Linked DNA regions of Homo sapiens: regions 2 and 3 are each linked to region 1. The links come from fine-mapping of genetic effects on plasma protein levels. A gene starts in region 1. Each other region holds a variant in brackets. All regions are shown on one strand. Distances are between the middles of the regions. Region 1 holds the start of CCL13 (C-C motif chemokine ligand 13). Region 2 holds the start of CCL8 (C-C motif chemokine ligand 8). Region 3 has its middle 7.7 kb from the start of CCL2.

What was found. A credible set is the group of variants that fine-mapping cannot tell apart. PIP is the chance, under the fine-mapping model, that this variant and not a neighbour inherited with it causes the effect. Protein levels are from antibody-based Olink assays in UK Biobank. Linkage for the fine-mapping came from a reference panel and not from the study's own genotypes, which makes the PIPs less certain.
Region 2: its variant is the best candidate, but not a certain one, in a credible set for the plasma level of the CCL13 protein (UK Biobank, PIP 0.81).
Region 3: its variant is the best candidate, but not a certain one, in a credible set for the plasma level of the CCL13 protein (UK Biobank, PIP 0.53).

What each region holds. Positions count from the first base shown.
Region 1 is chr17:34,354,868-34,357,716 of GRCh38, forward strand. It overlaps CCL13 (C-C motif chemokine ligand 13), which reads left to right and starts at 1,613. Exons shown (of 3, transcript NM_005408.3): 1 at 1,613-1,735; 2 at 2,608-2,722. The coding sequence starts at 1,660.
Region 2 is chr17:34,318,332-34,320,831 of GRCh38, forward strand. It overlaps CCL8 (C-C motif chemokine ligand 8), which reads left to right and starts at 1,104. Exons shown (of 3, transcript NM_005623.3): 1 at 1,104-1,246; 2 at 1,938-2,055; 3 at 2,471-2,500. The coding sequence starts at 1,171. The variant A/G (reference allele first, on the strand shown) is at 944.
Region 3 is chr17:34,246,139-34,248,987 of GRCh38, forward strand. No RefSeq gene overlaps it. Among named protein-coding and RNA genes, the nearest start is that of CCL2, 7.7 kb to the right of the region's middle. The variant G/A (reference allele first, on the strand shown) is at 1,088.

The sequences.
Region 1 (2,849 bases):
AGATTTTCAATTCCTGATTCCATTTCTTTAATAGCTTTAGAATGACTTTCTATTTTTTATTTATTTGTGCACCCTGGTCAGTTAGATTTTTAAGAAATTCATCCATTTCCTCTAAACTAAATTTTTGGCATAAGGTTCTTATCATTTTCTTTTTGGTGTCTGCAGGCTCTGCAACTGGTTATATGTACCTTTTTCCTTTTTTCTTTTCTTTTTTTTTTTTTCTGGGACAGAGTCCTACTCTGTCACTCAGACTGGGGTGCAGTGGTGCAATCTTGGCTCACTGTAACCTCGGCCTCCCAGGTTCAAGCAATTCTCCTGCCTCAGCCTCCCAAGTAGCTGGGATTACAGGCATGTGCCACCATGCCTGGGTAATTTTTGTATTTTTTTTAGTAAAGACAGGGTTTTACCATGTTGTCCAGGCTGCTCTAGAACTCTTGACCTCAAGTGATCCCCCCGCCTCAGCCCCTTTTTTCTTTTTTTTTTCATTTTCAGTTCAGGAGAGTTTTAGCTTAATTATAGGCTACAGAACCAGCTTTGGGCTTCATCTATCCTTTCTAATATTTACTGTTTCCTATTTCTCTAATCCTAGCTCTTTATTTCTTCCCTTTACTTTCACTGGGCTTATTTTGCTATAGTGGAATGCAGAGGGATGAGTATTCCAGGAAGGCACAAAAACTGTGCCAAGTCTTGGAGCTAGGGATGAGTGGGAAAGGGACATGTTCAACCATTTTAAGCCATTCCCTCCCCACCTCCCAGCTCCCAGATATGTGCCCCTCGCAGGAGGAGCCCAGGAATGGGCCAAACACCTCACTTCTTTGCTCTGAGGGCCACCCCAGCCCTCCCATCAACAGCTCTAGAAACCCAATGGTCCTTCCTGGAAACACGGGGCCTGCATCAATCAGAGGTGTTTGAACCATGTCCCTCTGGGCCTGAGGGGCAGAAGGGGACACAATATGTAATGTAAGGAGCCCCTGTCATCAGAAATCTGACTTAATCTGTTTCAGATATTAGACTTCCACATAAAAGTTGACTTGGAAAAAGACTTCTGCTGCTAAACAAAAGTTGAAACTGCCTTGGTGATAAAATATAAGCAGACCAGCTTTCTCTTCTAGCTTTCCCTCTCATTTCCCATAAGATTTTGGTCAAGTTATTTAATCTCTCTGCATCCGTTTCCTCTTCTATGAAATGGGCATGATAATAATGGTATGTACCTCCTCAAACTAAATATATAACGTGAACAGAGTCCTTAGCACAGCACTCTTTCTCTACAGGAGTTAATTTTCATTGTTTTTCTCTTTCCTGTTGGAGAAAGTAAGAAGAAAACAGCTCCTTTATGGCTTCCCATGGTGAATGGCTGGGGCGCGTCTGTGTCCCTTTCTCCTCTCTGGCTCCTTGTGGCCTGAACAGCCAGAAGGAAGCCATGCCATGCTGTTTCAGCCCTCAGCTTCCCTCTTGCATTTCCTAGAAAAGTCTTTGGTGCCCAGCTCCAGCTCAGCAGATTCAGGATCCCCCTTCATCATGACTTGGTCAACGCCCTGCTCAGGCCAAGGTCCTCTGAGAGTTCCAAGCTTCTCCACTCCCTATAAAAGGCCGGCGGAACAGCCAGAGGAGCAGAGAGGCAAAGAAACATTGTGAAATCTCCAACTCTTAACCTTCAACATGAAAGTCTCTGCAGTGCTTCTGTGCCTGCTGCTCATGACAGCAGCTTTCAACCCCCAGGGACTTGCTCAGCCAGGTAAGTCACCTCCCTTCGACTCTCCCTCTCTTTCCCTCTGTTTCTCTATTCAAGGAAGACCTAAGCCCGAGTGCTCCTCCACTTTTTTTTTAGATTGAGTCTCATTATGTTGCCCAGGCTGAAGTGCAGGGGTGCGATCTTGGCTCATTGCAACCTTCACCTCCCAGGTTCAAGCGATTCTCTTGCCTCAGCCTTCTGAGTAGCTGTGATTACAGGCACCCGCCATCACGTGCAGCTAATTTTTGTATTTTTAGTAGAGAAGGGGTTTCACTATGTTGGCCAGGCTGGTCTCAAACTCTTGACCTCAAGTGATCCTCCCGTCTCGGCCTCCCAAAGTGCTGGGATTACAGGCGTGAGCCACCAGGCCCAGCCAAGTGCCCCACTTCTAAGCCCACCAGAATAGTAAGGCTCCTCAGAGGTTCACTTTAACATCTAATTTTAAAGATAGAAAGCTGAAGCCCATGTTGGAGGCAGAAGGGACCCTAGCCATCCACCTCCAGGTTATTGCAGAGCAAGAATGAAACCTAAGCTTCTGACTCCAGATTTAGGGCCTTTTCTTTGACCTCATCTGATCGTCCCAAACTCTGCAGATCTGGGACCACACCCAGGACCTTTCCCACTGGCCTTGCCCGTGGCCTCCCCTAGATGGCTGTGACATGTCTCCACCATGCAGCTGAGCCTTTGAGATCCTGAGGCACATGTCACAGGTCCCACCTCACCTCAGGGTCTAGGGTGGGAGTGCTGGGCTTGGGGGTGAGTAAGATCTATTTCTTCCTCTTTGCTTTGCATCCCATACAGATGCTCCCTGCTGTATTCAAGCTGAGAAAAGCCTAACACATCCTCAAAGTCTTTTTCTTTGTAACTATTTCTAGATGCACTCAACGTCCCATCTACTTGCTGCTTCACATTTAGCAGTAAGAAGATCTCCTTGCAGAGGCTGAAGAGCTATGTGATCACCACCAGCAGGTGTCCCCAGAAGGCTGTCATGTGGGTAGAAAAATCCCTGCTCACCTGGCTCCTCCCCACTCCCACATTCCCCAATCCAAAGTTCTGCCCCAGGAGACAGACGTCAGACTGACTTGAGATCTTAGGATGAGATCTAGCCAGACTGTGT
Region 2 (2,500 bases), 37 kb before region 1:
CTATGCACTTAAAAATGGTTAAGATGGTATGTGCATTTTTACCACAATAAAAATAATAAATGAATAAAGAACAAAGGAAGTAATTAGCTATCAAACCACAACAAGGCACGGAGAAACCTTAAATGCATATTGCTTAGTGAAAGAAGCCAGTCTGAAAAGGCTGCCTACTATATGATTCCAACTATGCATATGATACTTGGGAAAAGACAAGCTCACAGAGATAGTAAAAAGATCAGTGGTAGCCAGAGATTTGTGGAGAGGAAAAAGGATGAATAGAAGAATACAGTGAATTCTTAGAGCAGGAAAACTTCTATATGATATTGTAATGATGGATAGATCAGGCCTGCAGGGGGAGTAGATGAGGTCAGTCTTTTGCAAACCTGGTTCCTTCTTGCCACGCCCCGCCCACAGCCCCACTGTGTGTGAACCAAGAGAGTTGGAAGGCCTTCTGCAGACGGACCCATTCCACCTGAATCTCCATGACATATTGGACTTCTCCATATAATTTCATTTGGAAAGAAACTTGAGCATCTAAATAAAATGTTTGGAAACCACCATGCTACAAGACCAGCATGTGCTGTCTAGTTCTTACCCTCTGCAACAGTAAGATTCTGGGGCATTAAGACTTAGTTCCAGGATTCTGTCATTCTGCCAACGTTCTGTGGCTGGGGTTCTAAAGGAGCTTGCCTGGCTTAGAACTGCAAGTGACTCTAGTGTGATGGAGAGCACCAGCAAAGCCTTAGGGCCCATCCCTGGCCTCCTGTTACCCACAGAGGGGTAGGCCCTTGGCTCTCTTCCACTATGACGTCAGCTTCCATTCTTCCTTTCTTATAGACAATTTTCCATTTCAAGGAAATCAGAGCCCTTAATAGTTCAGTGAGGTCACTTTGCTGAGCACAATCCCATACCCTTCAGCCTCTGCTCCACAGAGCCTAAGCAAAAG[A/G]TAGAAACTCACAACTTCCTTGTTTTGTTATCTGGAAATTATCCCAGGATCTGGTGCTTACTCAGCATATTCAAGGAAGGTCTTACTTCATTCTTCCTTGATTGTGACCATGCCCAGGCTCTCTGCTCCCTATAAAAGGCAGGCAGAGCCACCGAGGAGCAGAGAGGTTGAGAACAACCCAGAAACCTTCACCTCTCATGCTGAAGCTCACACCCTTGCCCTCCAAGATGAAGGTTTCTGCAGCGCTTCTGTGCCTGCTGCTCATGGCAGCCACTTTCAGCCCTCAGGGACTTGCTCAGCCAGGTAAGACCTCTCCCTTTTTAAGGGGAGACCAAAAGAGGAATTAAGAAGAGCCATTATGTCACAGCTCATTAGGAACAAAACCAGAACTAAAGGCTCAGGTCACTGAGGCTGGTTCCCTTGATCTTTCCTGACCCCAGTTTTGGGAGGAGACAGTGGAGCCGCTACAGCAACAACCCTCCCATTGTTTGGGGAAATAATCCAGAACGAAGAACTGTTTCTCACTGTGGGTGTAAAGGACATTTCAGGCCGTAGTGGAGAGGGAGAAACTATTGCCTGAAGCTTCAAATTTTGGTTATGGTTCAGTGTACCTTCCAGAACAGTGGCTGTGTAAAGAGGATGAGGACCCAGAGGAATCTCAGCGTATGGCATAGGCTAACTCTAAAGCCCATGAGGATGAAAGACTGGGAAGCAAGGTATTGGAACTTATGTTCCCAGTGTCAGAAGTTTTGGGTTAGTAGACAAGGACTAGCTTGTTACTCAAAATGTTTCCAAACCCAGTCAACAATGACGGGCCGCAGAGTTCAATAGAGGAAAGAGACTCACAGGCAACATTTTATCTCTGGGATCTGGACTAAGACACTGAACTTGGGATGGTGACTTCTTGGTCTTCTCCTTCCTTCTCTTCTTTTCCTTACAAATGCACACTTACGGTGGGTCCTAAATGTCTCATTCTTTGCAAAATTTCTTTCAGATTCAGTTTCCATTCCAATCACCTGCTGCTTTAACGTGATCAATAGGAAAATTCCTATCCAGAGGCTGGAGAGCTACACAAGAATCACCAACATCCAATGTCCCAAGGAAGCTGTGATGTGAGTGGACAGTGCCTGGCACCCCCATTCAAAAGTTCTGATGGACAACATAGAGAAGTCAAGATTCATGTCCATATGAGTCGGATGCATATAACTTCTATCCAAAGGGCCCCTCTACCCCATAGAGAAACTCAGTCCATGAGAAGGAGTCCATAACTGCTCTAGGATTCCCTTCTAGGGGCTTGGTGAAACTAACCCAATATCTGTAGCCAGGACCCTGGAGGGTTTCACCTGGACAGCAAGAGCAGAGCTTCCTTCTGGAGCTTCTTCCTCCCACTCTTCCCCTCCCTCCTCTCCCGGGTCCGGGTCCTTCACCTAAGGACCAAGGGCTGATCAGTTCTAGGGACCAATGGCCCACAGTCCTGTGCAGGATCTTCAAAGTCTTCCATCTAATTGTGCCCTCTCTCCCCCACAGCTTCAAGACCAAACGGGGCAAGGAGGTCTG
Region 3 (2,849 bases), 110 kb before region 1:
GGGCATGGAGAGAATTCTTATCTCACAGCCTCTGCCTTCACTGGGGAGGAGGCTGTCTCCTGAGAATGTTGAAGCCTGAGACAGGAGCCCAAGATGCTAGGGGAAGGGTGAAGGTGTGGAATGCCACTGTGGAGTATGGCAGCGCCAAAGAACTAGGGGCACATTGCGGAACAGCAGCAGCACTGAGGAGTCTGTCGCATCTGTGGACCTCTTGTCCTTAAAGATATCCAGGCCTTCCAGCAAGCCCAACAGCCTGGGAGTGGTCAGGAATCAGGGGGAAGATGATCCGATGACCTGGGTTTGGGCACTGGCAGGTGTGGAGATAGAATTGTAGAAATGAGAGCATCTGTATGCTGGTAGGAGAGTGGTCAACACTGGGCTGGACTGGGGAGGAAAGGAAGCCAGGTAGGGGCTAAGGGACCTGGAGGAGCTGATGCAGTAGATTCAGAGTTGCTGAAGGGGAAGGAAATAGAAGGCTGTGGTCAAAGGACTGGATTACTAAGTGGAACATTACAAAATGGAGAAGTTCAGGGAGATGACGAAGTCCAAAGGGTGGCCATGCAGCAAGGCTGATATGAAGTGGTGATAAGTTCACTTGAAGAGGGACCCAGAGGAAACTAGAGAACTTACATTCCCTAAATATTTCCTTCCCTTAACCTTCTGCTCCTTACCAAGCCTTCCATTTACAGCATGGGTGCAGGTGACCTTGAAAGGGGAGCCTTAGAATGAAAGGAAAAGAAAATAAGCAGGAGAAGAAAAGGCACGGATTTCAAGGAAAAAAACACTTGGATGGTAGATCATACAGAAGATTGGGCTTGGAGTGAGAACACGTGAATTTAAATCCCAACCCCTCCAGTCCCCAGCTCCCTTGTCCTTGGGCAAGTCAACCTCGAAGGCTTCATTTCTCTGTCTATAAAACAAGGAAATGACACCAGTGTCACCTACATAGCAATGGCTTTGTGGGAATCCCATGATTTAATGAATCATAGAGGACACATAAGGGGTTGTGGTTTTTGGCATCTCATGACCCACAATTTTAAAATCTTTCCTTGTTAACTGCACAGGTGTTCTAGAAGATATTCAGTAA[G/A]TATTTAAAATTAATGTTTATTGTCATGAAATCAGAATTGCATAATGACAAGGCTAATGCCATAATTTTGGAATGTAAATACATCCTAACTGCATTGGGAGCAGAACATGGGACAAATGTGGGCTAAGGACATGCTAGAGCAGCGAACTAGCCATAATAAATAAATATTTGTGTGTCACTTGCATAGTCCTTTTTGTCACCTCGGGGTACAAATAGTTCACATCTCTCTCATTATGTTCATTTAATTCCCAGGCCTCCAGGTTGTCCATATTAGGAGGAAGTCTAGTAATTCATGGTTAAGCCCCCTCCCAACATCCTTACAGTGTCCCCAGAACCTTGAGGACCTATTCAGTCAAGCTGAGAAAGCTTTGCTGCTAAGTTTCAAGCAAAGTGGAAGCTGGGTAACCTGACCCTCTTACCAGTGGCCAGGACTCCTGACTGCCATTGCTTCTGTCACTGTCCCCAGGGTACCTATGGATCCCTGGCCTCACACCACCTAAAGATTTTCCTGTTCCTTGCTCTCATGGTACCTCCTCCAGCCTTGGCCACAGTGTCATCCTTGGGCCCCCTAGGTTTCAGCCTCTTGAGTTTGCACTTGCAGGTTTGGCTGTTGCTCTCAAAGCAGGACTATTGCATCAACATGGCAGGTGCAGAGGTCTTCCCGCCTCAATCGTCACCCACTGATTTCTCTGCCATGGCCTTGAACTCAGGCGACCAATCCAGTTGGAACCTCCCCACACTCTCCGTGGCTAATAATTTTGGACTCAGAAGAAAAAGCCTCAATTTCTCTCCTCTCAGGAGGTCTCTTGGTCCTTGAGCAAATGTATCCATTTCTTCTCCTATCTCCAGTCTTTGGGCCCCCAAAGGTTTTTTTCTCCCTTTCTCCAGGACAATGAGTGCCTATTTACAAGTGCCTGTTTCTACTTGAATAAGGTTTCTATAAACTAAGAAGTGTTCCTTAGGGACACAAGTAACTGGCACTCCTGTTGGAAAATGCTAAGATCTAGGTCACGCGCACTTCCCCCAACAGACACATACACACATTCACACACACACACACACACACACACACACACACACATACAGCTTGTCTGCACTCTAGCACTGGCACTGACGCTAACGCTATAATCCTGGGCAACTTTATTTCCCCATCTTACATTAAGCAGTGGTGCAGGGATTTTCAACTCTGGGATCTCTATCACACCTCCCAGCTCTGATTGCTTCCTAATTTACATATTTATTGAGCATCTGATGCTAGGTCCTCATGCTGGTGATGCAGGAGTAAACTAGACAGACAAAAGTCCGTGCCCCACATTGTCTGACACCTACACACCTGCTGTTCGGACTCCATTACAAACAGCTCCAAGGGGAACAGTGCACTTGTAAAGTTTCTCTCATTACCATGGCCACATCCGTGAGCAATAAATAAGTTGCATAGTTGAATTATTTGATAATGCTTTGTTTTTAACTCCCTGCACTTAAGTCAGAGATGTGTGTGCTTTGGAAAACTATTTTTCCTGACTCATTAGACAAATACTATTTGCATTTTTATTCAGCTTCCTTCCTCAGACTCTAATTTACAGTAAAGGCAAGAGGATTTTTGAATGGAGCCAGTGCTTTGCAATGTGGGGCTCCACCAGCTAGCCGACTGAAATCATTAATAAAGAAGCCTTTTTAAGTGGCTGAAGTTTCCCCTTTTTGGCATGCAACATTTTGCAACCAAGCGGAAGAAACATCATCCGCAAAGAAGAATCCATGTGGC